Regions from separate parts of the Homo sapiens genome. Here regions 1 and 2 are each linked to region 3. Evidence: fine-mapped expression QTL. A gene starts in region 3. Each other region holds a variant in brackets. All regions are shown on one strand. Distances are from middle to middle.

Region 1 (9,948 bases), 130 kb after region 3:
GAACTGTCTTGGTGTGTGGGGAAAAACCCACACATCCGGTGTCACAAATGTTGAGTGACTCTGCGGGAGTCGAGAGTAGAAAAAACACTTAGGTTATTTATGTAACCTTACACTTATTAATACAGATGCAAAAATTCTAAATAAAGTATTAATAAAAATCAAGTTATATAATAATAATATACTGCTATAGAGTATTTTAATTATGCCCTATTCTATATATTTCAGGTGTACAGGCTGGTTCACTATCAAGACATCTATTACCGTTAGTAATGAATTATGATAATACTATAAAGGAAAAACCATATGATCCTGTCAATATACACTGGAGGAACATTTTATAAAATTTAATAGCCATTCCTAATAAAAATTCTAAGCCAATAGGGTGTGATGACTTTTCTATTAAAAACAAGTCTAAGTAACAATACAAGGAAACTACTTATCTAGGATAAGGACTGTATCTCTAAACCCAATAGCAAACATTGTTCTAAATAGCAAAACTCTGAAATCATTTCATTGAAATCAGAAATTAGAAAAGGATGTCCATGTGCTATTATTATGTTACATTGTCAAAGTAAGGTAAGAAAATAATTGCCATAAACTTTGAAGAAGACGAAATAAAACTATTTATGTTTGTCTATGTGACTTCATTGTTTGCCTAGAAAACTCGAGGGACTTTAGTAATAAACTATTTGAATTGTAGGTCATTTTGGAAAAGTGGGCAGATGCAAGATAAATATACAAAAAGCACCAACTTCTCTCCGTATTAGCAGTAAGTACTTTGAAAGGAAATTAGAAAACTATTTTATTTTCTACAGTTTTATACAAGCTTAAAATACTTAGGAGTGTAATTTAAAAAAATCTTTTAATTGTCATTTTATAGCTCCCCACCGCAGCTGCCCCCACCCTTCCCTTCGATGACGACGTTTGCAGGGTTCAGGGCGACCAGGGAACAAAGCTGGGGCCTGGCAGACCCACTATGCTGCCAGCTGGAGAAAACAAGTCACAATGACAAATTATCACAATTAGCACCTGTACTTGGGGGAAAAAATCTGCAAATTGGGGAAGCCCCAGCTCCTCATTGTACAGGGGTCTGTTTGGCAGTGACCTTGCTCTGGAGATGACATTCCTTCAGCCTGAGGGAATCGACGTTGATGAACCCGTGGCATCAATCGGCTCATAATCCCCCTGCACGTTCATGCTCACCAGCTCCTCGTTGTAGAGAGACAGTGGGGACTCCCGACCGAGGATATACACCTGGCCCTTGAGGACAGACACCTGCACTTTCCCTTCCACTCATTCCTGGGACTTGGCATTACAGTGGCGGACAAATTCACACTCAGGGCTATGCCAGAAACCGGTATACACCAGCTCAGCAAATTTCAAGCTCAGGCCTTGTTTGATTTTGCGCACTTCTCGGTACATGGTGAAGGCCTTGATGTCTAAATGAGTGTGGTGAAGGATGGTCCCTGCTGGGGCCTCGCAGATACCTCAGGACTTCATTCCAATGAAGCGGTTCTCCACGATGTCAATACGGCCCACGCCGTGCTTGCCTGCAACTTCATTCAGGTACACGAAAAGCTCCAAGGAGGTCTGGTGGGTGGTGCCATCCTTGACGTTGGTCACCTTCACGGGGACCCCTTTTTTGAACTTGATCTCGAGAATGTCAGGGGTGTTGAGGGCTTTGGCTGGGTCCTGGGTCTTCATGTAGAGACCTGGAGGCACTTGGTTCTTGGGGTTCCAGGATTCCAGCCTCATAGCTGATGTGCATGAGGTTCTCGTCTATGCTTCACGGGCTCTGGGGAGTGACTGGAATGGGAACCCGATGTTGCTTTGCCTATTTCATCAGGTCATTGCAGCCCTTGAACCGGTTGTAGAACTCGGGCATCCTCCAGGGAGCGGTGACCTTTATCTGGGGGGCCAGCAAATAGCAGGTGAGCTCAAACCGGACCTGATCATTTCCTTTTCCCGTGGTGCCGTGGAACACATACTTGGCCTCCTCCTGCTTGGCGATTTCCACTTGTTTGCCGGCGATGCCGGGCCTGGCCAGAGAGGTGCCCAGGAGGTAGCGGTTCTCATACAGTGCGCTGGACTGGATGGCCGGCCAGATGAACTCCTCCACAAACTCCCTGCTGGCATCCTCAATGAACACCTTTTTGGTCCCAAGCTTCAGTGCCTTCTTCCAGGCTTCCTCGAAGTCTTCCTTCTGGCCAGTGTTGGCCAGGTAGGCAATGATGTCATAGCCTTGTTCCTTCAGCCACACGAGGATGCAAGAGGTGTCCGGGCTGCCACTGTAGGCCAGAACCACTGAGCCTTTGCTGGACATAGCATCTGGGATTGGAGGCTCGAGTTCCTGGCATCTGCCATCTGTCTTCATGGTACGGTGAACCACTCGGGCTCAGGGAGCGGTGGCAGGCGACAGAGCAGGGAGTATAATTTCAAAATACCAAACCATCCACAAAAACCCAGAGAATAGTACCCATAACCAGCTTCAACAATCGTCAATATTCTGCCCTTCTTGTTTCATCCTGCCTCTCCACCTTACCTACTGTAGTACTACTTTAAAGCAAATTTCAGAAATCAAAATAGTTTCACCTTGACAGTAAAATTAATAAGATATAAGACCTATTTAAAGTTATAAAAGCTCAATTAAAATTATAAATGTTATCTGAACAAATGGAAAGACATCTCATGTTCTTTAATGACTTGGAAACATAAAATCTATTTAAAGATTTTTAAAAATTTATTTATTTATTTATTTTCAGAGACAGGGTCTTGCTCTGTTGCCCAGGCTGGAGTGCAGTGGCAGGAGCATAGCTGTACTGCAGCCTCATACTCCTGGGCTCAAGGGATCCTCCTGCCTTAGTTTCCCAAGTAATAAGGAATACAGGCACGCACCACTATACCCAGCTAATTTTTTTTAAAGACGAGGCCTTGCTATGTTGCCCAGGATGGTCTCAAACTCCTGGCCTCAAGAGATCCTCCTGCCTTGGCCTCCTGAAGTGTTAGGATTAGAGGCATGAGCCACGGTACCCAGGCCTGAATTTTTAAATATAAACCCAAAAGCACAGGCAACAAAAGTAATAATAGACAAATGGGATTGTATCAAACTAAAAAGCTTCTGCACAGCCAAGGAAATAATCTACACAGTTAAGAGACAACCTACAGAATGGGAGAAAATATTTGCAAACCATACATCTGATAAGGGATTAATATCTAAAATAATAAGGAACTGAAACAACTCAATTGTAAGAAAACAAATAATGCAATTAAAAAATGGTCAAAGGATTTGAATAGACATTTGTCAAAAAAAGACAAACAAGTGACCAAGCACAGTTATCTTTTGGGATCTGTAGGGGATTAATTCCAGAACACCCTGCGGATACCCAAATCTGCTGATGCTCAAGTCCCTGATATAAAATGATAACAGTATTTGCATATAACCTACACACATCCTCCCATATACTTTTATTTTTTTATATAAAGACGGGGCTTCACCATGTTGGCCAGGCTGGTCTTGAACTCCTAGTCCCAAGTGATCCTCCCGTCTCGGCCTCCCAAAATGCAGTGATTACAGGTGTGAGACATCATGCCCAGCCCCCTCCCATATACTTTAAATCATCTCTGGATTACTTATAATACCTAATAAAATGTAAATGCTATATATGAATACTATCCAGCTTCAAGAAGGAAGGAAATCCTGCCATTTGTGACACCCTGGATGAATCCAGAGGACATTATATTAAGTGAAATAAGTCAGATACAGAGAGACAAATACTGCATAATCTCGTTTGTACGTGAATTCTAAAGAAGTTGAACTCATAGAAGCAGAGAGTGGAATAGTGGTTATCAGGCTGAGAATTGGGCGTTGGGGAGATGTTGGTCAAAGGATACAAAATTTCAGTTAGGAGGAATAAATTCAGGAGATCTATTGTACGGTATGGTGAATACAGTTAATATCAATGCATTGTGTTCTTGAAAATTGCTAAAAGATTAGATTTTAAGTGTTCTTACCTCAAAAAAAATAGGTATGTGAAGTAATACGTTAATAAGCTCAATTTAGCTACCCCACAGTGTATACATATTTCAAAACAATATATTGTACACAATAAATTATATAATTTTTGTCAATTAAAAATATTAGAAAAAAATACATTGGGCCAGGCATGATGGTTTATGCTTGTAATCCCAGCACTTTGAGAGGCGGAGGCAAGAGGAACTCTTGAGGCCAGGAGTTCAAGTCCAGCCTGGGCAACATAGACCCAGTCTCTACAAAAATTAAAAAACTAGGTGAGTGTGATGGCATGTGCCTATAGCCCCAGCTTACTCAGGAGGTTGAAGTGGGAGGATCACTTGAACCCAGGCGATCAAGGCTGCAGTGAGCCATGTTCATGCCACTCCACTTTAGCCTGGGCAGTACAGCCAGAGCCTGTCTCAAAAAACAAAAACAAAAGTAATTGGTTACCTCAGAGGGGTAGGTTTGGAAGATGTGGGGTATGGACGGGGCTGATTAAGTTTTTTTTTTTTTTAATATATCCCTGTATTGCTTCATTTTGTGCACAATCTTTAATACTTTTATAATACAAAAAAGAGAAATTTTAAAAATGTGTTTGCTCTATCTCCAATGTCTAGAACAGTGTTTGGCACATATTTGGCATTCAATAAATGTTGGTTGCATAAATAAACAAATGGATTTTGTTAACATTTGTTGAGTACCTGCAGCGTGGTAGGCATTGGACAGCAGGTACTGCCTCGTATTTGTGTGGTCTATAAACCATTTGAGTTAATTGGATTCTGGTATATCAGAGAGCAAACTACATGCCTTCAAACATAACAAACGGAGACAAAGTTACAGCTACTCCTCTAGCTAAAGACACTACCCCTGCTCTCTGAGTGCATCATAAGGATCCTACTGATGTTTATTTCATATCTTTGATATACAGGCACACACCGTCCACACTTCAGGCAATCATTTACACACTGAGTGGGAGTGTGATAAGGGCATGTGGAGTAGGAGAAGTTTTCTGATCCGAACTTTACTGACTGCGCTAGAAAACCCTGATGATATCCTTTCCAGTGTTTCTAAGAACAATTCTTCCATTTCTAAGCATGATTCTTCCATTTCTAAGCAGCATGTTGTCTGTTTACTTATGATTATTTTTTACTTGTTATCTGTAAATGTTGGGGTGATCAGACCCAACACCAGGTCGTGGGGGCAACGAAGTCCTGCTGAGTCAAAGGAATGAGAAAAAGACAGTTTGAGAGAGAAAGTCGGACCAGGGGGCCATCCTGAGTGTGGAGCCTGTGAAGGCCCAGAGCTTTGGGAGCCCACACTATTTAGTGGTGCTCAAACAAAGAAACAGGTGGTGAGGATGTGGGGGTTGAAAGGAAACAGTGTATCAAGTGAATGAAAAACATATGGCGGCTTGAGATAATGGGAGTGCTAGAAGCAAGGAGCCAAGCAAGTCTAGCAGACATGCAAGCCCTGCCTCAGCTTCTCTCCGGACACTCAGCTTTTTCTCCCAACAGTAAATAAGGTTCTTTTTTATTTAAAAATAAGTAACAATTTATTTTCTTTTCAGAAATTTGGCTCAGTTGACAGGGTTGAGTTTCTGCAGTGATTGCTGAATTATTAATTAATTAATATTATTATTTGAGACAGAGTCACTCTGTCACC[T/C]AGGCTGGAGTGCAGTGGTGTGATCTCAGCTCACTGCAACATCTGCCTCCCCAGTTCAAGTGATTCTCCTGCCTCAGCCTCCCAAGTAGCTGGGATTACAGATGTGTGTCACCATGCCCAGCTAATTTTTGTATTTTTAGTAGAGACAGGGGTTTCACCATGTTGGCCAGGCTGGTCTCGAACTTCTGACCTCAGGTGATCCACCCACTGTGGCCTCCCAAAGTGCTGGGATTACCCACATGAGCCACCATGCCTGGCCCAGCTTCTTATCTGGTCTTTTTGTCTCCCTGCTGTTGCCACCTTCTACCCCCTTCAAATCCACACTCTACAGCTTCTAGGGATTATTTTTTTGAAAACGCAAATCTAACCATGTATATCAGACACATCTTCCCTACCTCTGTAGATTCTCTCAGCTTGATCAATTTCACAGACCCTTGGATTATTGTTCTATGCAAGCCCCTGCAATTCCACTTGAGGCCGACCAACCATACTCTTGGCTTCTCCCCTACTTCTGGGTAAAGAAGTCAGGGTTAAATCCTCTGGGGCAACTTTGACGAGCAGGAGAAAGGAGTCCCTTCCATGGACTTGTCCGGGGCACGGTTTTCCCACATACCCTGTCCAGGGACATCTTGTGTGGCCAAGCAGTGTACTTTTTAGCTTTTGAGTAAAGCTAAAATGGGCTTTGCCTCTTTATGGCTTGTCATAAAGCAGTAAGCAGTTGCATTTGTTTTCAATTCTTCCTTCACTTCACTGCTCTGAGGCTTTACTTCCCAATAAAATTTTAGCACCTTAATCCTACCCTTAAGCTCTGTTTTCTAGGGAACTTGGGCTAAGATATGAAGTTATTTTCTGCTTGAAAAGCTTTCCTTGGCTCTTTATTGCTTCCAGAAGTGTTTATGGGGATGGGGACAGCCGTTTGGAGATTAGTAGGATTTCTTTTCTAGTAGGTATGGGTGTGTCTGAGCATAGTATTTTATTTAATTACTTTGCTTTTTTTCCTTTATATTAAAGATATTGTATTATTAAAAATTAGGAGTGCAGATAGGTTACGTGATCCATGATTTTCACTTCAGGATAGTAAAGGGCAAGCTACAGAATCTTTCAATAGAAAGGGGACATTGGTAGAGACAGGGTTTCACCATGTTGGCCAGGCTGGTCTCAAACTCCTGATCTCAGGTGATTCACCTGCCTTGGCCTCCCAAAGTGCTGGGATTACAGGCATGAACCACATCCACCATGCCCAGCCTTGTCTCTGCTAAAAATACAAAAATTAGCTGGGTGTGGTTGTAGGCATCTGTAATCCCAGCTACTTGGGAGGCCGAGGCAGGAGAATCTCTTGAACCTGGGAGGCAGAGGTTGCAGTGAGCTGAGATTGTGCCACTGCACTCCAGCCTGGGTGACAAGAGCGAAACTCGGTCTCAAAAAAAAAAAAAAAAAAAAAATGGAGACATTGGGTGTAACAGGATTGAGTGAGACTTCTGATTACAGGGTCTGGTCCGAATCGCTCAATTTGACATACCTGGTCTCCCTGGTCTACTGTTGCCCCCTCTGCAGCCTTGTATCCTACTGCATTCTTCTTCCAGCCCTCAAGGTCCAAGACAGAAGCATCTGCCCTCTGGGTAGCAGGATGAATGAACAGATGAAGGGTGTCAAGGGCTCACACAGATTATCTGTTAAGAAGGTTCTTGGAAATTCCGCATGACTCTCTCCTTACTTTTCTGTGGGCAGAAAGCCCATGTGACTCCACATGGCCTCATGTGACTAAGCTTTATGGGAGGCTGTGAAATATGCACTTTATTTTGGGCAACTACATGTCCAATTAAAATTTTTATTATTATGGAAGGAGGACAAAATGAAAATTGGAGATGTTGAAAAGTCTCTGCCAATGTTCCTTTGCACAAGAAAAAAAATCGAGTTGCCTCTCTTTTTCTTTTTGACTTATTTATTACTTATGTTGCAAATATGTTACAGATTTAGATGTTTCAATCTTTTAACTTCATTTGAAGATTTCTCTCATTATACAAAGTTTAACAATTATGCAACTCTGTGGTCCCCAACCTTTTTATTCCTACCAGGAACCAGTTTTGTGGAAGACAGTTTTTCCATGGACTGGTGGTGATGGTTGGTGGGGTATGGATGGTTTCAGAATAAAACTGTTCCACCTCAGATCATCAGATATTAGGTTCTCATGAGGAGCACACAACCTAGATCCCTCGCATGCACAGTTCACAATAGGGTTCACACTCTCATGAGAATCTAATGTGGCTGCTTATCTGACATCAGGCAGTAATGCTCCATTGCCTCACCTCTTTCTGTGAGACCCAGTTCCTGATAGGCCACAGACCCGCAGTCTGGGGGTTGGGGACCCTGATGTAGCTAAATTAGGCATTCTTTCCTTTTTTTCTTCATTGTTTCTGGATGTTTGTGTTTTGCTTAAATAGGCCTTTCCTGTCCATATGTTCTTACATTTTTTTCTGGTAATTTTATACTTTTGTCTTTTGACTTGAAGTCTTTATCATATCTGGCATTTTTTTTTTGGATGGTATAGTGTGAGGTAGGGATGCATCTTTATTTTTTTCAATTTTTACCTAATTGCTACAACTTATTTATTAAACTAGGCTTCATTTCTCATTCCTTTGAAATGCCATGTTTATGGTAAGTTAAATTCCAATACATATGAGTCTGTTATGGACTCCCTGTTCTGGTTCCATTGAGCAATTACTCAACTCATATCACAATTTTTATTACTATAATTTTCTAGAAATTATTTTTTTTAACTTTAGGTATAGGATCTCACTATGTTGCCCAGACTTGTCTTGAACTCCTAGGCTCAATCTTCCTGCCTCAGCCTCTGAGTAGCTGGGAGTACAGGCATGAGCCAACACGCCTGCCTTGTAGAAATTCTTTATTCTCCCTTCCTTTTCTTCTCCTCTTCCTCCCTACTTTTGTCTTTCCTACTTCCGTTTAACCTAGCCAAGCTAATACAGTACCCCCATGAAGATGAGGCAAGCAGGTGCATGCTTCATTCTCTATCTTCTCAACTATAGCTTCTTCTGTACCTTTCCTACTCATCACCTTTCCATTTCTTTGGTGCCCAGTATCATGCCTTCTAGGTCTTGCATTGTGTGGAAATTCTAGAATTAATAGGATTGCTACTTGTAGTTCAAACTTTTTTTTTTTTTACACTTCTTTTTGGACCTGCATTATGCAAAATCTTCTGTTTTTCTCTATTGCTGGAATTAAAAATTCTCTTTAGGTTCTCTGAAGATGTAAAAACATCACTGACACCAGGATATATGGATTCACCTCTTTCTTTATTTCCTCCTTTATTCATCTTCTTTGACTGCCTGATTGGTTTCTTCAGGAAGGATGAAGCTCTTCTCTGACGTAGTGAGTGGGTGAATCTCAGAATTATGTGGCACATGAATGAGTTACATGGTGCTCAGTAGTCCCATATGGTCTTGTGAACAATTTGTTGCCCCAGATTCTGGCTGAATTTGTCCTGGATGCAGATAATAAGGAAGTTCATGTGACTCATAATGATGAGAAATAGGAGCATCCCTCCTTATGTTCCACCTCCCAGGGCTCTTTGGACTATTCTACTGTGACCTACCTTGACTTTCTCTATGGTCACGGCCTATCTGAACAGTGTTCTTTTTCTTAAACATTTTATTAGCTCAGCCGGGTGCGGTGGCTTACATCTGTAATCCCAGCACTTTGGGAGGCTGAGGCGGGTGGATCACAAGGTCAGGAGTTCAAGACCAGCCTGGCCAACATAGTGAAACACCGCTTCTACTAAAAATACAAAAATTAGCTGGGCATGGCCTATAGTCCCAGCTACTTGGGAGGCAGAGGCAGGAGAATCGCTTGAACCCGGGAGTCGGAGGTTGCAGTGAGCCGAGATTGCACCACTGAACTCCAGCCTGGCAACACAGCAAGACTCTATCTCAAAACAAACAAAACAAACAGAAAACATTTTATTAGCTCAAATAGTTACTCTTCCAGATGAATGTTCTATGCAACTTGTCAGATTCTATTTTAAAAAATTAGGATTTTCCTTTGATTATTTTTAATTTATCAATTAATGGGAGGGGTATTGCCCATATTAACCGTGTTGGATTATCAGAACAGATTTTGATGCCAAGAGCTGGGACTGTAGTGGGTTTTGTGTGTGTGTGTGTGTGTGTGTGTGTGTGTGTGTGTCTAGAATGGTGGTGGTGGGAGGTAAGCATGGAGGGCTTTCCTTTATAGTGTCATTTTCATAGCAATTTTAG
Region 2 (9,513 bases), 23 kb before region 3:
TGCAGTTCATTTACTTAGCACGTCACTGCACTCCAGCCTGGGCAACAGAGTGAGACTGTCTCAAAAAAAAAAAAAAAGGTAAAATGATGCATTTTCTGTTATGTGTATTTTACCACAGTATGAAAAAATAAGAAGACTCCTGTGGTGAAGGCTTCGCCTGGTCTGTTCTGCTCTGGAGGTGGCAGCGCATGGTGGTTAGTCCCAGCATCTTCCTGGAGATTTGAGCGTGAGACGTGCTGGCTGTGTGGGCTGTGCCACCTGAGGAGGATTGGCCAGTCATAAGGACTCAGCCTGGTTGCTGAATCCAGCTGGGGACCTTGACCCCAGTGACTGGCTTTTCAGCGGCTACCTGTTCTCGAGACAAATGCTGTCCTCCCCTAAGGAGTCTGGGCTGTGGCAAAGCTATGACATAGGTACAACCGTCCTTTTGCCAGGTGGGGCTTAGGTGGAGAAGTTGAAGCCTGGACTCAGTCAAGATCTCAGGACTGGGAGCAAGGAGCCTCTTACTCCCAGGGTGCCCACTTGGTTCCCACTGACTGTTGGTGGAAACTAGGGGCTGAGCTGGAGGCTTTTTAGAGGAAGAAATGACAAGCTGGGGGCTGGATTATCCCTGGGGGTGAAAATGGAGTCAGCTAGATAGGTTATGTCTTGAAGGAGAGGAGGGTCCCCTGGTGTCAGGAAGCAGAGCCTGAACTCCATGTTAGACCCTGGATTGGAGAGTGGGCAGGACACTTGGGAGAGACAGGACTTGGTACTGGCGAGGGTACTACCACACCCATTCTGGGAGTGGACTATAGAGAAATAAATCCTAAAAGTGGACCTATCTTTTGACCTCACAAGTCAACTTCTAGGAATTCATCCTAAGAAAACAAAGTCACACCCCAAGATGTATGTGCGTCAGTGTTCGCCCTAGTGCTGTTTGTAGCCCTGGAAAATGAGAAGCCACCGTCAACGGGGGACTGTGCTAAGTAAAATGAAGTACATCCAAACAATCAAGTACTATGCAACCATTGAGAATGATGAAGTGGATCTATATTTATCGATTGGAAAGAGGCCTAAGGAAACAAAGGAAACTACAGAATGGTCTTTCCATATGAGGCAGGGAAATGTATGAATAATTTAGTGCAGAAATTACTCTGTAATTGTTTCTGGGAGCAGATGCATGAGCAAAAAATTGAAGATGATTTTCCTTCTCTACATAGCCTGGGGCCAGGCCCCTGTTCTAAGCGTCCCCGCCCCACCCTGGGCTGAGGCCTTTGTTCAGAATGTTGGCCCTGTTGAGAGGACATGCTGGGTTGTCTTCTGGGAGGAGTTGCATTCCCCATAAGTCCCCCAGTCTTGGAAGGGTGATGCAGGGTTCCTCCCCTGGGGGAATGGTGGAGGCCTGAACTCTGTTCACAGGTGGTGGGAAATGGCATGGCTGTAGGAAGGTCTGAGAAGGCAGAATGGGAGCTCAACACAGGCTGGGGGGGCTTCTGGCAATTCTCTCAGGTTTAGAAAAATAGTTACAACATTTCTTGCCACTCTTTTGTGAGGGCAATTGAACTGTCAAGCCTCAAGACACTAAAGAATGGAAAGAATGCGGTAGGAGAGGAACACTGTCTTGGCTCTGGAGGGGCGAGATTCGCCTCTTGTGCCTGATCAGAGCTCGACAAGGGGGACCCCTTTTCTAGTAGATCTTTGACTCCAGAATCTAGGAGCCCTGTTGCAGAGGGAGGCCCTGACATCTGGATTTTGACACAGACCTGAGCCTGGAGCTGTTGGAAACTCATTTCTGGGACAGATGTGGAATGCTGGACAATCAAACGTCGCCGGGGCCTTTGGAGTGCTCCCTGTGTCCTGTTGCGGTGGCCACAGTGACTTTGGTCTCCCCTGATGACAGAAGCACAGGAGAAAGGCCAGCTCCATGGCCCAGCTCTTAGTTCCCACCTTCCTCCAAGGCGGGCCTGTGGGGCAGGGAGGGTGCAGGTGGACTCGTGAACCCCTCACCCGTGTTCACCCTCCATGAGCACACTCGGCGCTTTCCCACGTACCGTGTGTTGCTCCTTACAATAATTCCAGCATGGGAAACTTAGGCTCAGGGAGCTCACATGACTTGCACAAGGTCACACAGAGTTTGGGTCTGACACAGACCTCCTGAGTCCCAGGCTAGGGCTCTGGCCACTGGACCATGACCCAGCTCCTCATCCACACAGTGTGGGAGCAGGGCGATGGAGGCTGTGAGGTTCCTTGCCCCAGCCAGGGAAGCTGTGGCCTCAGCAGCACTGCCGAGAGAAGTACAGCCTGGATCCAGGGCTGGAGCCAAGAGCACCTTTGGGATGAGATTGTTTGTGTTTTGTTTTGTTTTCCCTTTACTGTTTTAGAGGACTTAGGAACCTAGTAAACTTGACAGCGACAGTTCCGTATACCAGGGGCATTGCATTGGTGTCACCACGGTCTGGGAGATGTACAGGAATGGTTAACACTGAAACAATCCATGAGGATGCAAGGAGGCCTGAGGCGTGGGGAAGAGGGAAGAAGGGAGACTCCTGAGGGCTGGGGATGCAAGTGGACCTGAAGACATGGGGTTTTCTGCCTCTGAGGCATCACTCTGGGCAGCAACAACCAGTTCCTGCTTCATGGACAACACAGCTTCTTAATCCTCCTGGACCTGCCCTGCCTGGGCCAACACCTGGTGCTCAGGAGGGCTCAGCACAGTGTCTGTCTGAAGACTGCGGGGACCCAGAAGTCCAGGTGGAGACCTAGGATTCCCCAATAAGGCCTAGATGCCTGCTTAGTTCTCCCTTTCTCTTCTGGGCACCTTTCCTCCCCGACTGTACACCCTCTTCCCAAGGGAGAGCAATTGCCACACTATTCCAAGACCCCC[CT/T]GTAAGTTCTCAGCCAAAGGCATTTTCCTAAGCAAAGCCAGGGGCTGTGGTTTGTTTTGATGACAAGCTGAATCAAGACTGCTAAAAAGCAGGCTGTTGGGTTTAACTTCATCAACTCCAAGCCTCAATGATTTGTGTTCCATGTGGTTTGCTCTGGATAGACACTGACCTAGTGACAATGAGACTATGGAATGGGGAGAGAAGAATTGCATGCTGAGGACAGGAGAAATCTTCCCCATGAACAATTTGTCTGTTGGGCATGACATCTCATATGTCAGCTTGGGCCATTCCTACCAGCTTGGAATGCTCTGTGTCTGACTCAGATGCTGTGTGTGTCTCAAGGGCGCTGGGCTTGGTGGCCTCTGTGAATTTGGCTGGCAGATCTTGGCCCTGCTGGCTCCCAGGATCCATGGGCACTCTTCCTGTCTTGGGTCTACCCTGTCGTGCAGGTTCACTGCCCACAACCTCCGGGAGACTGTTCCAAGGGTTTTCTTTGTGGGAGACAAGGCCTGCCAGGCCTTTCCCTGGCCCCTCTCCAACCCTGATGTCAGTACACATCCTAGCATACTGCTGGGAATGCCTCAATTTGAGGGAGTGCAATTAGTTGAGGGAACTGAGGAAGTGCTGTAATGGGAGTCTAGGGTTGACCCCTGGGTGACCAAGGCCAGAATGTCAAAGGCGTTTGAACCAGAGCAACTCCATCTTGAACTGGGGCTGGGTGAAATAAGGCTGAAACCTACTGGGCTGCATTCCCAGAAGGTTAGGCATTCTTAGTCACAGGATGAGACTGAAGGTTGGCATAGGATACAGGTCACAGACCGGGCGTGGTGGCTCACACTTGTAATCCCAGCACTCTGGGAGGCCGAGGCGGGTGGATCACTGGAGGTTAGGAGTTTGAGACCGGTCTGGCCAACATGGCGAAATGCCATCTCTACTAAAAATACAAAAATTAGGCATGGTGGTAGGCGCCTGTAATACCAGCTACTCGGGAGGCTGAGACAGGAGAATCGCTTGAACCTGGGAGGTGGAGGTTGCAGTGAGCCGAGATCACACCATTGCACTCCAGCCTGGGCAACAAGAGTGAAACTCCGTCTCAAAAAAAAAAAAAAAAAGATACAGGTCACAAAGACCCTGCTGATAAAACAGGATGCTGTAAAGAAGCCAACCAAAACCCACCAAAACCAAGATGGTGATGAAAGTGACCTCTGGTGTCCTTACCACTCACTATATGCTAATTATAATGCATTCGCATGCTAAAAGACACTCCCATTCCCATCAGTGCCACGACAGTTTAAAAATGCCATGGCAATGTCTGGAAGTTACCCTATACGGTCTAAAAAGGGGAGGAACCATCAGTTCTGGGGGAAATCCCCACCCCTTTCCCAGAAAACTCACGAATAATTCACCTCTTGTTTAGCATATAATCAAGAAATAACTATAAGTATACTCAGTCAAGCAGCCCACTCCGCTGTTCTGCCAGTGGAGTAGCCATTCTTTTATTCTTCTGCTTTCTTAATAAACTTGCTTTCGTTTTACTCCATGGACTTGCCCCAAGTTCTTTCTTGCACAAGATCCAAGAACCCTTTCTTGGGGTCTAGATTGGGATCCTTTTCCTGTAACAAGATCATCTCTCTACTCCCCATCTGGAAACGGGGTCAGGAGGCTACGAGGGCCTTTCCAAGCTGCCATTTTGTATTTCTAAGAAAACTCTTCAGCCTGATTATAGTTACTGCTAGGGTGCTAAAGACAGGACTCTTATCCTCCCTCAAGGTCTCAAAGCCAGAAACAAAGGTCTACTTTGTCAATCCAGGAAACTAGGGAAGGGAGGAATGGAGGAAGGGCAGTCCCTGGTAGTTCCGAGGGATCCCCCAGGGCATGGCCAAGAGGCCAAAGGGAACTAGGCCTCCTCTGCGTGTTTTCCTGGAAGGCTCTACTGCTTTTCCTTCTTCAGCTGGGTTCTACCCCTGAACCAAAGCCACAAAAACACAAAGTTCAGCTTAAAAAGTAAAACACAAAACTTGTCCCAAGAGTCTCTGGTGACCTAGTTCTGGTGACCAAATTCTGGCCTGAGGCTGACCCCAAGGGAACCTCAGAGCATCAGCCTCTCACAGCGCCCTGGGGGTATTCAGTCCTGAGTACCTTGGCTGTAAGGCCAGCCCCCTGCTGAAGTCCCCCTTGCCAGAGTCAACCAGAGGGCCACTCTTTTTCAAAGGGACTTGGTGGTCAGGTGCCAGCTGTACTTTACCAGAGAGGAGGGGAACCCAGTAGGAGCTTTAGGGCTATGGGCCAAGGAGACCCTGCCAACCTGGAAGGCAGTAATTATCTCCTCTGCAGGTATTCACAACATTTACTGGGTCACAGAGCACCTCCATAGCTTGGGAGGCCTGTTGCTCACCACAGCTTTGGGACGTGACATGGTGGTTGGCCAAATGTAAAGAGTATGGACTTTAGAGCCAGATACGTTTGGGTTTAAAGACTTGGCTTCAGGCCGGGCATGATGGCTCATGCCTGTAATTCCAGCATTTTGGGAGGCCGAGGCAGGCAGATCACCTGAGGTCAGGAGTTCGAGACCAGCGTGGCCAACTTGTTGAAACCCTGTCTGTCCTAAAAATACAAAAATTAGCCAGGCGTGGACTCTATCTCAAGACAAATAAAAAAATAATAAAGACTTGGCTTCACCACATAGTCACTGGGGAACTGTAGGCAAATTGCTTTTTTGTGGACATCCACAATTATCCCAGTACTGTTTATTGAAAAGCTGTTGTCCTTTCTCCACTGTACTTCAATGCCACCTTGGTCATAAAGCAACTGTCCTTTCCTGTGAGGGTCTGTCCCTGGACTCTATTCTAGTTCATGGCTTTATTTATCTATCGTTGTCCCACTACCATACTGTACCTTTTTACTGAAACTTGTTCTTTTTTTATTGAGTGTCTTGGCTCTTGCATTTCCATAAGAACTTTACAATCAGCCTCTCAAGAGCCACCAAAAAACCCCACCATAATCACCCCACTTTTTGAGATATTGATTGAAATGCTGGTAAGTTTATGGATCACTATAAGAGACCTGATATCTTTAAAACATCAAACCTTCAACGTATAAACAAGATAGAATCCTCTTTTGGTTTAGGTCTTCTTGCATTTCTTCACAGGGATCTTATACATTTTTATTATTTTTTCCCAGGTATTGTATATATTTTTACTCTTTTTTATTTTTTGAGACAGAGTCTTGCTCTGTCGTCCAGCGGGGAGTACAGTGGCATGATCTCGGCTCACCGCAACCTCCGCCTCCCAGGCCCAAGTGATTCTCCCACTTCAGCCTCCTGAGTACCTGGAACTACAGGCACATGCAACCATGCCTGGCTATTTTTTTCTATTTTCTGTGGAGACAGGCTTTCACCATGTTGCTCAGGCTGGTCTCGAACTCCTGGGCTCAAGTGATCCACCTGCCTTAGCTTCCCAAAGTGCTGGGATTATAGCCGTAAGCCATTGCGCCCAGTCTATTTTCACTATTTTTAAATAAATGATAGCCTTTTGAAACATATTTTTCTTTTGTTGCTCATATATGTAAACACAATTTTCGTATATTGACTTTGTATTCAGTAACCTTGATAACTAATTCTAATAATTTTCTCCACATTCATTTGGATTTTCTAAGTATCTTCTACGAAGATTTCCTGTCATCTTTAAATGTTTCTTCCGGCCGGGTGCGGTGGCTCACGCCTGTAATCCCAGCACTTTGGGAGGCCAAGGTGAATAGATCGCTTGAGCTCAGGAGTTTGAGACCAGTCTGGGCAACATGGCGAAACCCCATCTCTACTAAAAATACAAAAATTAGCCACGGATGGTGGCACGCGCCTGTAGTCCCAGCTACTTGGGAGGCTGAAGCAGGACGATCACTTGAACCCGGGAGGCGGAATTTGTGGCGGGCCGAGATCGCACCACTGCACTCCAGCCTGGGCAACAGAGCAAGACTCCGTCTCAAAAAAAAAAAAAAAAAAAGATGTTTCTTCCTTTCCAATCTCAAAGCTTTTATTTCGTACCTTCCTGTGCTGTCTAGGACTTTCATTACAATGTTGAATAGCGGTAGTAGAGAGGTATTTTCATTTATTCTAAGTCTAGATCTCTAAAGGAAAACTAAAGTTTCACCATTAAGAAGGGTATTTGATATAGTTAAGAATGATAGTTGAAGGCCAGGCACGGTGGCTCACGCCTGTAATCCCAGCACTTTGGGAGGCCGAGGCAGGTGGATCACCTGAGGTCGGGAGTTCGAGGCTAGCCTGACCAACATGGAGAAAACCCGTCTCTACTAAAAATACAAAAAAATCAGCCAGATGTGGTGGTGCATGCCTGTAATCCCAGCTACTCGGGAGGCTGAGGCAGGAGAATCACTTGAACCCAGGAGGCAGAGGTTGTGGTGAGCCAAGATCATACCATTGCACTCCAGACTGGGCAACAAGAGTGAAACTCCATCTCAAAAAAAAAAAATGATATTTGATATAGTTTTATGTAGACTTTCATTATACTAAGAAAATTCCCTTCTATTCCTTGTTTGGTAAGAGTTAAGTTTTTTGTTTTGTATTGTTTTGGTTTAATCATGAATGGATGTTGAATTTTATTAAATGCTTTTCGGCATCTATTAAAATGATCACGTGATTTTTCTCCCTTATTCTGTTAACGGGGTAGATTTCTTGGATTGGTTTTCAAGTGTTAAGCCAAACTTGCATTCCTAGAATAGAAACAATTTACTCATTATGTAGTGACCTTTTTATCTATAGCAAGATTTGGTTGGCTAATCTACTATTTAGGATTTTTACATCTATGTTCATGACCAAAATTAGTAGGTAATTTTCCTTACTCATAATATCCTCCTTAGATTTTCATATCGCTGAAAAAGTCTTTTTCCTTTTTATTTCAATCTCATAATTATGTTCAAAGGAAAAAGTTTTGTGGCCAAGCACACTGGCTCATTTCTATAATCCCAGCACTTTGGGAGGCCGAGGCAGGAGGATCATTTGAGCCAGGAGTTTGAGGCTGCAATGAGCCATGATCACACCACTGCACTCCAGCCCGGGTGATAGAATGAGAAGACCCTGTCTAAAAACAACAACAGAAAGGCCAGCAATGGTAGCTCAGGCCTGTAATCCCAGCACTTTGGGAGGCCAAGGTGAGCAGATCACTTGAGGTCAGGAGTTCTAGACCACCCTGGCCAACATGGTGAAACTCTGTCTCTACTAAAAATGTCTCTCTCAAAAGATCTTATTGTACTATGCTTACCTATTTTCAGATTGCAGTTGACCATGGGTTAATGAAACCATGGAAAAGGAGACTGTGGATAAGAGGGGGACTACAGTAGTCAGAATTTTAGGGGACAGTGTTCTGTGTATGTCTCTTAGGTCAAAGTTGTTAATTGTATTGTTCAAATCTTCTATTTCGTTAATGAATTTTTTTTTTTTTTTTTTTTTTTTTTTTTTTTTTGAGATGGAGTCTCACTCTGTTTCCCAGGCTGGAGTGCAGTGGCGCAATCTCGGCTGACTGCAAGCTCCGCCTCCCGGGTTCATGCCATTCTCCTGCCTCAGCCTCCCGAGTAGCTGGGACTACAGGCACCTGCCACCACGCCCAGCTAATTTTTTGTATTTTTAGTAGAGACGGCATTTCACTGTGTTAGCCAGGATGGTCTGGAATTCCTGACCTCATGATCTGCCCGTCTCAGCCTCCCAAAGTGCTGAGATTACAGGCATCAGCCACCATGCCCGGCCCTACCTTAATGAATTTTGAAATCAAATCTTCTATACTCTTTGCTTGTTGAAAATTTCCCACTAGGCTTGTAGCTTTTTCTATTTGTCTTTGTAGTTCTATCAGTTCTTACGTCTTGTGCTTTGAGACTATGTTATTAGAGATTTAGCAATTTAGGATTGTTGTATCTTCTGGGTTTAAGACTTTTTGGCCGGGCGCAGTGGCTCTCAGCTGTAATGCCAGCCCTTTGGGAGGCAGAGGTGGGCGGATTGCCTGAGGTCAGGAGTTTGAGACTAGCCTGGCCAACATGGGGAAACCCCATCTCTACTAAAACTACAAAAATTAGCCAGGCAATGGTGGTACACGCCTGTAATCCCAGGTACTCGGGAGGCTGAGGCAGGGGAATTGCTTGAACCTGGGAGGCAGAGGTTGCAGTGAGCTGAGATCGTGACACTGCACTCCAGCCTAGGCAACAGAGTGAGACTGGGTCTCAAAAAAAAAAAAAAAAAAAGAATTTTTGCCTTAAAGTAAATTTTATCTAGGAATTATATAGTGGTGATGGCTGCATAATATTTTGAACATACTGAAAAAAAATTGAATTATATACTTTAAAAGGAAGGAGGAAACCAACCTTTTATTTTATATATATATATACACACACTATATATATACATATATATACACGTATATATACACACATATATATATAAAATACAGCTATATCAGCTTTCTTTTAGAGTCTTCCAATTTTATATTTCTCAGTCCTTTTACTGTATCCTTTTTTCCATATCCTTATGCCTTACCTGTATCCTTATGCCTTACTGTATCCTTATGCCTTACCTCTGTCTCTGGTAAATAGCATGTTGTTTGTTTTTTAAACCTGTCTACTAATTCTTGTATTTTAACTGGAGAAT
Region 3 (9,948 bases):
CCAGGCACTGTTGTGTTTTGTATGAATTAACTCATTTAACTCTCATAACTTAAAATTCATGTTCTGCAAAAAGCACATAGAATTATGTGATTTTTTTCTCTGCTTTGCCTTATTATATCCTGTTAGAAGAAACTGGTCTAGTTTAATAGAAAATAAAACGAACCTTTTGCCCCATTTTGGCACTCAAATATTGACTTTCCCTTCTACAGTACTTCCTTTATCCGCAGGACCAAGAATCTCTCTCCCCTCCACCTCTTTTCCTTAACCAGTTAGACATTTGGAGGCTAGGTTTACAATGGTAGTTTTTCTGTGACTGTCCTGCCCTCTGCTGGATTCAAGAGATAGATTGCTGATACATGGACTTATGGGAGGGGGCCCATTTACCGGAAAGCAGGGCGGATCAGGAGACCGGATTTCCCTCGGGGTTACTTTTGTTCACTAGAAATTTGGTCTAGGAGGTTGTGATCCAGCCTGTGAGTATGCGGTGGAAAGATTCTTGGTGAATACAACTGCCTGGTTTAGAGTTTAGAAGTTGTCTGTGTGTGTGCCTGCTTGTTTCTTTATTTATATATGGATGGAGAGATGTGAGAGACCTCATTTGTCTAGTGTTAAAAACAAAATTTCTATACAAATTGATCTTTAGGAATTGGCAAAATTTATCAACTTGTGAACAAGAGATCAGCAAGGTGACAAAAGCTATACTTTTGGGTATGGGAAAAGCATGGAAATGGATGGATTGTTGGAATACAGAATACTTACATAAGCAACCAGTTCAGGAAGGAAAAAAATCCTCCCCAACTAGGTAAAGATTGTAATTTCTTATACATGGTAACAAAAACATCATATTCCACTTTTTTATTACAGAATAAACATGAATGAGGAGGGTTTGCAATGCCAGCAGCATCGACTGTCAATCAGGGGTTAAAAATCCAATATATCGAAGAAGCAAAGGATAGGTATACCTCTGTGGCTGCTTGCTAGTCATGATAAAGTTTCATTTCTCAAGAATGGTGCCCATGATCACATTGACGTGAATGCATAAACCACGGGCACAGCAGCAAATAACAAGTTCTGACTTGAAACAGGCTACTTGGCACCAGGGATTATGTCAAGCAGCATGTGATGCAGACAGAGTATAGTTTACACTCCCCACCCTCCACTGCCCCACGTTTTCTTTCTTTCTTTTTTATTTTTATTTTTATTTTTTGAGACGGAGTCTCACTGTGTCACCCAGGCTAAAGTGCAATGGTGCAATCTCGTCTCAGGCCAACCTCCGCCTTCCGGGCTCAAGCGAATCTCTTCCCTTAGCCTCCTGAGTAGCTGGGATTACAGGCATGTGCCACCATGCCCAGCTAATTTTTGTATTTTTGGTAGAGATGGGGGGGTTTCACTATGTTGGCCAGGCTGGTCTCGAACTCCTGACCTCAGATGATCCACCCACCTTGGCCTCCCAAAGTGCTGGGATTACAGGCGTGAGCCACCATGCCTAGCCTATTTTAATTTTATTATTATTATTATTTTCTTTAGAGACAGGGTCTCACTTTGTCTCCCAGGCTGGAGCGCAGTGGTGCGATCATGGCTCACTGCAGCCTCAAACTCCTGGGCTCAAGCCAATCCTCCCGCCTCAGCCTCCCAAGTTGCTGGAACTACGGGCGTGTGCCACCATGCCAGGCTAATTTTTCTGTGAAGAAGGGGTCTCTTGCTATGTTGTCCAGCCTTGTCTTGAGCTCCTGGTCTCAAGCAATTTTCCCACCTTGGCTTCCCAAAGTACAGGGATTATAGGTGTGAGCCACCACACCTGGCCAATCAATATGTGCTATTTTTTAGAGAAAAATTAATCAATTTAATTGTACCTGTAATTGACTGAATAAAAGGAAACTGAAGTGAAACCAAAAGAATTGTTGAACTTATGTAAATGTTTCTTTATCACAAAATATATTATTTTCTAAAAGATCTTTCCAAGGTTAAAAAAGGAGAGTAAGAAAAGTATTAAGGGATTGGAGTTATTATTTTGGAGCAATGACTAATAGGCATCTCTTTAACATGTTCTCAATACTATTAGGCTCAAGGACCTCCAAATCTCTTGTAACATCCCTTTTAGTGTTCTGAAATTCATAAGTAATATAATCTACTTACACATTGGGAGGCCAAGGCGGGCGGATCACTTGAGGTCAGGTGTTCGAGACCAGCCTGGCCAACATGGCGAAACCCGTCTCTACTAAAAATACAAAAATTTGCTGGGCATGGTGGTGCGTGCCTGTAATCACAGCTACTTGGGAAGCTGAGGCAGAAGAATCACTGGAACCCAGGAGGCAGAGGTTGCAGTGAGCTGAGATGGTGCCACTGCACTCCAGCCTAGGCAACAGAGTGAGACTCTGTCTTAAAAAAGAAAGAAAAATCTACTTACGCAGATAATGAAAAAATCAATATAATGCTAAATATATAGGAAAAATAAAAATAAATTAATTTGTTATAAAATAGAGTAATATGTAGTTCAATATCAAAATCCTAGGGTGTTACTACAAAAGACATAATGAAGCAATAAGATGCTCACATCTATAAATAATGAACAAGCTTGGATGTAATAGGAGTCATAAGAAGAGAAGCCATTCCATTCAAAATGAAAGCAGAGGTGTGGTGGATATTAGAATAAAACCTGGTGTTAAGTAATCATAGAGAAGATTTATTTGTATAAACAAAATAGAGAAGTAACCTGAATTTAAGAGTAACATGACAAGTACTAGGTAGAGAAAATGAGGACATATGCTATTGTTGCGATGAGCTGGGTCTTCTTTTCAAGGAAGAAGTTATAATAATTTTGTGCTGTTATGGGATAGAATAGTGAAGGAGTATCTCATAAACCATATAACCCATGTTGATATCTCACTACATGTCAAGGCAAGCATGGAGACTCTAAAACATTTGAAACCTTGGAGACCATGTCCTTCAAGAATTGATAGGAAATAGAGGATGATTTGACAAAAGAAGCAGTATTTAAGAGGTTATGGACAAGTTGTATGGCAGACCTTTAGGCACAGAATCAGATAAGACTGAAAGCCATCAGGAAATCTACAAATACATCATTTCAATATGTAATTTCGGAACACAGATTTATTTTATTTATTTATTTATTTATTATTTTTTGGTCACTCGGTCACCCAGGGTGGAGTGCAGTGGTTCGATCTCTCCTCACTGCAACCTCTGCCTCCCGGGTTCAAGGGATTCTCCTGCCTCAGTCTCCCGAGTAGCTGGGATTACAGATGCACACCTATCTGCCTGGCAAATTTTCTTATTTTTAGTAGAGACGGGGTTTCACCATGTTGGCCAGGCTGGTCTCCAACTCCTGAACTCAGGTGATCCACCCGCCTCAGCCTCCCAAAGTGCTGAGATTACAGGCGTGAGCCACCACGCCTGGCCAGATTTATTATTACTGTGCTGCAAATAATTTTTACAATTTATATACAACAGCAATAAAATATTTAAAAATAGGTTTTATGTATGAAGTTCACTGATATCTCTACATTTCATTTGTCACTACAAATGTAATAATGTGTTTGACCTAAAGTCCCGTGACAGGGCGTGGTGGCTCATGCCAGTAATCCCAGCACTTTGGGTGGCTGAGGTGGGAGGATTGCTTGAGCTGGAGGGGTCGAGGCTGCAGTGTGCCACGATCGAGACACTGCACTCCAGCATGGGCAACAAAGCGAGTCCTTGATTCAAAAAAACGCAAAACCAACCAACCAACCAAAATCCTCAATTAACTCTTCCTATAAATTTTGGCTAGTGTTATGTTGGTTTTGAATGTATTAATATCCCATCAGGTATTGCATATTCAGCCTCATCTTAAATCTAATCAACTAATTACATCAAACGAAAGCAACATTGGCTGGGCGCAGTGACTCACGCCTGTAATCCCAGCACTTTGGGAGACCGAGGCGGGCGGATCACGAGGTCAGGAGTTCGAGAACAGCCTGACCAACATAGTGAAATCCCATCTCTACTAAAAATACAAAAAATTAGCCTGGCGTGATGGCAAGAAACCTGTAATCCCAGCTACTCCGGAGGCTGAGGCAAGAGAATCTCCTGAACCCGGGAGGCAGAGTTTGCAGTGAGCCGAGATCGCGCCATTGTGCTCTTCAGCCCGGGCGACAGTGCGAGATTCCGTCTCAAAAAAAAAGCAATCTTTCCAAACCAGTGCTCTTTCTTTTCTTTCTTTTCTTTTCTTTCTTTTCTTCTTTCTTTTCTTTGCTTTTCTTACTACAATCTTATCACCACTACTTTTCTTTTCTTCTTTTGAGACGGAATTTTGCTCTCCTTGCCCAGGCTGGAGTGCAATGGTGTGATCTCGGCTCACCGCATCCACCTCCAGAGGTGAAACGATTCTCCTGCCACAGACTCCCGAGTAGCTGAGATTACAGGCGCCCCCGCCACCACGCCCGGCTAATTTTTTGTATTTTTAGTAGAGACGGGGCTTCACCATGTTGCCCAGGCTGGTCTCGAACTCGCGCGCTGGGAGTACAGGCGCGAGCCACCGCGCTCCGCCCCAGCGCTTTTCTTTTTCAGTACATTTGTGAGCTGTATGGCGCCCGGTGCTTTTTTTCTTTTTCTTTTCTATCTTTCTTTTTTTTTTTTTTTTTTTTTTGAGACGGAGTTGCGCTCTTGTTTTCCATGCTGGGGTGCAATGGCGCGATCTCGGCTCACCGCAACCTCCGCCTCCTGGGTTCAAGCGATTCTCCTGCCTCAGGCTCCCGAGTAGGGATTACAGGCATGCGCCACTACGCCCGGCTAATTTTGTATTTTTAGTAGAGACGGGGGTTTCTCCATGTTGGTCAGGCTGGTCTCGAACTCACGACCTCAGGTGATCGCCCGCCTCGGCCTTCCAAAGTGTTGGGATTACAAGCGTGAGCCACCGCACCCGGCTCCGGCCTGCTTTTAAACAGTCTTCCTCCTGATGCGTATTTCTCTGGGGCAGGGGCATAAACTCCGCCCTCTGACAGCCCCTGAGGGCTCCGCCCCTACGCGAACCTCGCCCCTACTCTTCGTTCACTCTATCTCCAGAGCGGGAGCCAGACGCCGACCCAAGCGGAAGTGACGTTAGGTGTCCGCCGGAGGTGTCGTTGGTGTGTTGCGCGACTGGCCTTGAGGGAGAGCTGGGGCCTGCTCCCGGAGAGATACGGCTATGTCGATCGAAATCGAATCTTCGGAGTGAGTCCTGCGGTGGGGATGTTCGCGCCTTGCCGGGGGCCTGGAGGTTAAGGGTGTGGGGCGGAGGGTACTCGGGAGAAGGCATCCGAGAGGCCAGGGAGTGGAGGGCCATTTCCTTGCCCCCAAAGAAGCATCTTGGATCTCGCTACCTCGGAGGTGGGCCCACAGGAAAGTAGCAGCTCTCAGACGTGAAGCCCAAAACCTCGAGGGAGGTGGCACGGGTGGGGAAAACACACCTTGCAGACCTAAGTTCTGTCCTTGGCCGACTGCTGGCGCGCTGTGATTGACCAAATTAAGGATCCACTCTGGACTCCAGTCTAATTATCTGCGCAAGGGGATAGGTCTCTTTAAGCCTTGCTTCTCTCCCTGTCCAGCTTATGCAATGTGATTCGTTGTCTCTGCTTATACGGCCCCTTTGCTTTTCTCTGCCTAGCGTTTATCACTCAGTATTGTCACTGTTTGATAACCTCACCCCAAACTAGCCTTTGTCGGTGCCTAGGAGCTCCTTTTCCTTGTGGTCTCAGTGTCTAGCATACCTTAGAGGAAGAGTTAATTGCTTTTGGAATGAATGAACAACTAGCTTTTGGAATGAATGAACAACTATCAGGCCCGATCTGGCACGGAATTTTGGGTTGTCTGGGGAGAGACAGACTGGAGACTGGGCTAGAAAGAAAAATTTTCAAGGAATAGGGGATGAGAATTAGTGACTAAAGAAGACCTTAGTGTGCTTTTCCAGAACTCCATCCTCCACCTGTCCTTGCCAACACTTAATAATAATTAAATTAACAGACATAAAAATTGTGTCTGAGTGTAAGGGAGGGAGAGGACCTTTTTTGGAGACTTTTCATAGGAGGAAGGGAGGTTTATGCATTCAGCAAATACTGAAATGATGTTAACCTACTTGTCCAAGGTCACATAACTTTGATTCAAATCCCAGACTATCTTCAAAGCTTCTAGCTCTTTATGTATTCATTTCTGTTTGAAGGTAGGGAATTTGATTTTGGCTATGTCAAATGTGAGCTGTTTGAGGAGAGAGATGACTTATTTTGGGAGTGTAAAATGGAAGTCAACGGACATGTGCTAAGGAAGATAGTATCATAGCAGAATAACAGGGGTCTAAGTCTGGATACCTGCATACCTCATAAAGGGGCCATGAGAGAAAAAGACTACTGCAGGTAGCAGCAATCAGTTCCCTTTTTTTTTTTTGAGACGGAGTCTCACTCTGTCACCCAGGCTGGAATGCAGTGGCGCGATCTCCGCTCACTGCAAGCACCGCCTCCCACGTTCACGCCATTCTCCTGCCTCAGCCTCCCGAGTAGCTGGGACTACAGGCGCCCACCACCATGCCCGGCTAATTTTTTTGTATTTTTAGTAGAGACGGGGTTTCACCGTGTTAGCCAGGATGGTCTCGATCTCCTGACCTTGTGATCTGCCCGCCTCGGCCTTCCAAAGTGGTGAGATTACAGGCGTGAGCCACCGCGGCCGGCCTATAGTTGTTTTTAAGAAGAGGGGCCAGGTGCGGTGGCTCACACCTGTCATCTCAACACTTTGGGAAGCTGAGGTGGATGGATCACTTGAGCCCAGAAGTTTGAGACCAGCATGGTCAACATGGCAAAACCACGTCTCTACAAAAAATACAACAATTAGCCAGTGTGGTGGTGCATGCCTGTGGTCTCAGCTACTCGGGAGGCTGAGGTGAGAGGATCACCTGATCCCAGGAGGCCCAGGCTGCAGTCAGCCACAATCACGCCACTATTCTGTCCAGCCTGAGCGATGCAAGTGACCATTTCTCAAAAAAAAAAAAAAAAAAGAGGATGTTTGCTTTCTCCTCAGGAATACATGCTCTAGAGCCACACTGCCAGTTTGAGTCCTGATTTTTCCACTTATTATCTCTATTATCTGATCAAATCCTCATCTGTAAATTGGGGATAAAAGTAAACTTACCTCATAGGTTTTATTTTATTTATTTTTTTGAGACAAGGTCTTGCTCTCTTTCCCAGGCTAGAGTGCAGTGGCATGATCACGGCTCACTGCAGCCTCAACCTTATGGATACAAGCAATCCTCCCACCCCAGCTTCCCAGGTAGCTGGGACCACAAGCACACACTATCATGCCTAGCTAATTTTTTTTTTTGTGTGTGTGTGTGTGTAGAGAAGGGGTCTTCTTATGTTGCCCATGCTGGTCTTGAACTCATGGGCTCAAGGGATCCTCCCACATCAACATCCCAAGTAGCTGGGACTACAGGCACATGCCACCATGTTTGGCTAATTTAAAAAAAAATTTGTAGAGATGGGGTCTCACAGCTGCCTGATCTGGTCTCAAACCTCCTGGTTTCCAGCCAATCCTCCTGCCTCAGCCTCCCAAATTACTGAGATTACAGTCATGAGCCAGCATGCCCAACCTCATTTAGATTATTTTGTATAAATAACTAGTCTAGTCATTTAAAGTATTTCAGTGAAGTGTGCTACAATATAATTACAAGAATGAATAGGAAACTAGGCTCTGGATTAGGAAATAAGATAGTCACCTTGACACCAACTCCCTTTCTAGCTGACTGAGACATTAGGCAAATGATTTCCTTTCCTTGAACCCCAGTTCTGTCTCTATGGTTAGGGGGGGTCCCCTTATAATTTAGATTCTGTGATTTTGGAAAATTTTACTCACATGATAAAGAAATAGTAGTGAAAGGAAGATGATTGAGTAGGAGCTTGATAGGCTTTATTTTTGACCTCTGGTGAGTGAGAATCCCTGAGCTGAACGATTTGTTTTCTTTCAGTGTGATCCGCCTTATTATGCAGTACTTGAAGGAGAACAGTTTACATCGGGCGTTAGCCACCTTGCAGGAGGAGACTACTGTGTCTCTGAATACTGTGGACAGCATTGAGAGTTTTGTGGCTGACATTAACAGTGGCCATTGGGATACTGTGTTGCAGGCTATACAGTCTCTGAAATTGCCAGACAAAACCCTCATTGACCTCTATGAACAGGTAAGAGTGGTGGTGATGCTGATCCCCATGGGTTGGTTCGTTGTGGGCCAGCTCCCCAACTAAAAAGCGTCAGTGAGCATTCCTTCAAGCACGGTAGGGCTGCATCAGCCCATACAACAATGGCAAGGCTTGACATTGTATTTTTTCTCCCTTCTTGGAAAATCCAGGATTTCCCAAATTAAAATTCTTTCCTTTTTTTGAGACTGGATCTTGTTCTGTTACCCACTCTGGAGTGCAGTGGCAAGATCACAGCTTGCTGCATCCTCCATTTCCAGGATCAATCCTTCCTCCTGCCTCAGCCTCCTGAGTAGCTAGGAACACAGGCACGCACCACCACGCCTGCCTAATTTTTGCATTTTTCTGTAGAGACAGGATCTCACCATAATACCCAGGGTGGTCTCAAACTCCTGGGCTCAAGCAGTTCGCCAGCCTTGACTTTCCAAAGGGCTGGGATTACAGGCACGAGAGAGCCTCAACTTTCTAATCACATAGTTAGTCTTTCTGATAACTAGCTCCTACCTATCCTGAGCCATTTCCTTTGCACAAACCCAGGTGTGATTCAAGGGGCCCAGGAGTAACAAAGATACCCCTATCACTGGTCAAATTCCAAGAAGCTCCAAGCCAAGAACCTAGGACAAAGATCAGACAAATTTGTGATTATAAAACAGCAGAGTAGACTTTCTGGAAATAAGATTGTAATTTGAAGTAAAAGTAGTGAAATTGGTTTTTGGTTTTTGTTTACGGGTTTTTTTTTTTGTTTTTTTTTTGAGACAGAGTCTCACTGTGTTACCCAGGCTGGAGTGCAGTGGTGCGATCTCTGCTCACTGCAACCTCCATCTCCGGGGTTCAAGCGATTCTCCTGCCTCAGCCTCCCGAGTAGCTGGGATTACAGGCGTGCATCACCACGCCCAGCTAAGTTTTGTGTTTAGTAGAGACGGGGTTTCACCACATTGGCCAGGCTGGTCTCCAACTCCTGACCTCAAGTGATCCACCTGCCTCAGCCTCCCAAATGCTGGGATTACAGGTGTGAGCTGCCGTGTCTGGGCAGTTTGTTTCTTTACAATCCGTATGAGTTCAATAATTCCCAAAGAAAATTTTGGTAACTGGAGAAAGGTTTCTCTGGAGCCCATGGGTATATTCCCATCTTTAGCTTTCTTTGGCATCTACATTCTGAGCAAGAAGCCTGAGAGGAGGGGAGATTGGTAGATAAAAATGAAGGATAGAGTTTGAAGGATTGAAATTATTATTTATTTATTTATTGAGACAGATCTCGCTCTGTCGCCCAGGCCAGAGTACAGTAGCATGAGCTTGGCTCACTGCACTCTCCGCCTCTCGGGTTCAAGCAATTCTCCTGCCTCAGCCTCCCAAGTAGCTGGAATTACAGGCATATACCACCACACCCAGCTAATTTTTTTTGTATTTTTAGTAGAGAGTCTGTTTCACCACGTTGGCCAGGCTGGTTTCGAACTGCTGACCTCAAGTGATCCGCCCATCTTGGCCTCCCACAGTGTTAGGATTATAGGCATGAGCCACCAAGCCCACCAAGTCCACCTGAAATTGCTAGTGAAAATGGAAAGGGGCACTTCCTGGTATTGGAAATCCTTTGACAGGCCATATCTGTGTTAGATATTTTACCGAAAAATATTAATAAGACGGTGTGTTGAAACATCTGGGGTTTTTTTTGTTTTTTTTTAATTGTCCAGGTTGTTCTGGAATTGATAGAGCTCCGTGAATTGGGTGCTGCCAGGTCACTTTT

What was found.
Region 1: its variant is fine-mapped to the expression of SMU1 in transverse colon (GTEx, PIP 0.97). The same link has a PIP of 0.9 or more in esophagus muscle.
Region 2: its variant is fine-mapped to the expression of SMU1 in stomach (GTEx, PIP 0.91).

What each region holds. Positions count from the first base shown.
Region 1 is chr9:32,938,371-32,948,318 of GRCh38, reverse strand. It overlaps the pseudogene ASS1P12. Among named protein-coding and RNA genes, the nearest start is that of APTX, 58 kb to the left of the region's middle. The variant T/C (reference allele first, on the strand shown) is at 5,675.
Region 2 is chr9:33,095,387-33,104,899 of GRCh38, reverse strand. It overlaps a transcript of B4GALT1 not described here. Among named protein-coding and RNA genes, the nearest start is that of MIR12117, 8.5 kb to the left of the region's middle. The variant CT/T (reference allele first, on the strand shown) is at 2,867.
Region 3 is chr9:33,071,840-33,081,787 of GRCh38, reverse strand. It overlaps SMU1 (SMU1 DNA replication regulator and spliceosomal factor), which reads left to right and starts at 5,114. Exons shown (of 12, transcript NM_018225.3): 1 at 5,114-5,205; 2 at 7,982-8,192; 3 at 9,896-9,948. The coding sequence starts at 5,180. RefSeq lists enhancers at 4,733-4,932, 5,103-5,252.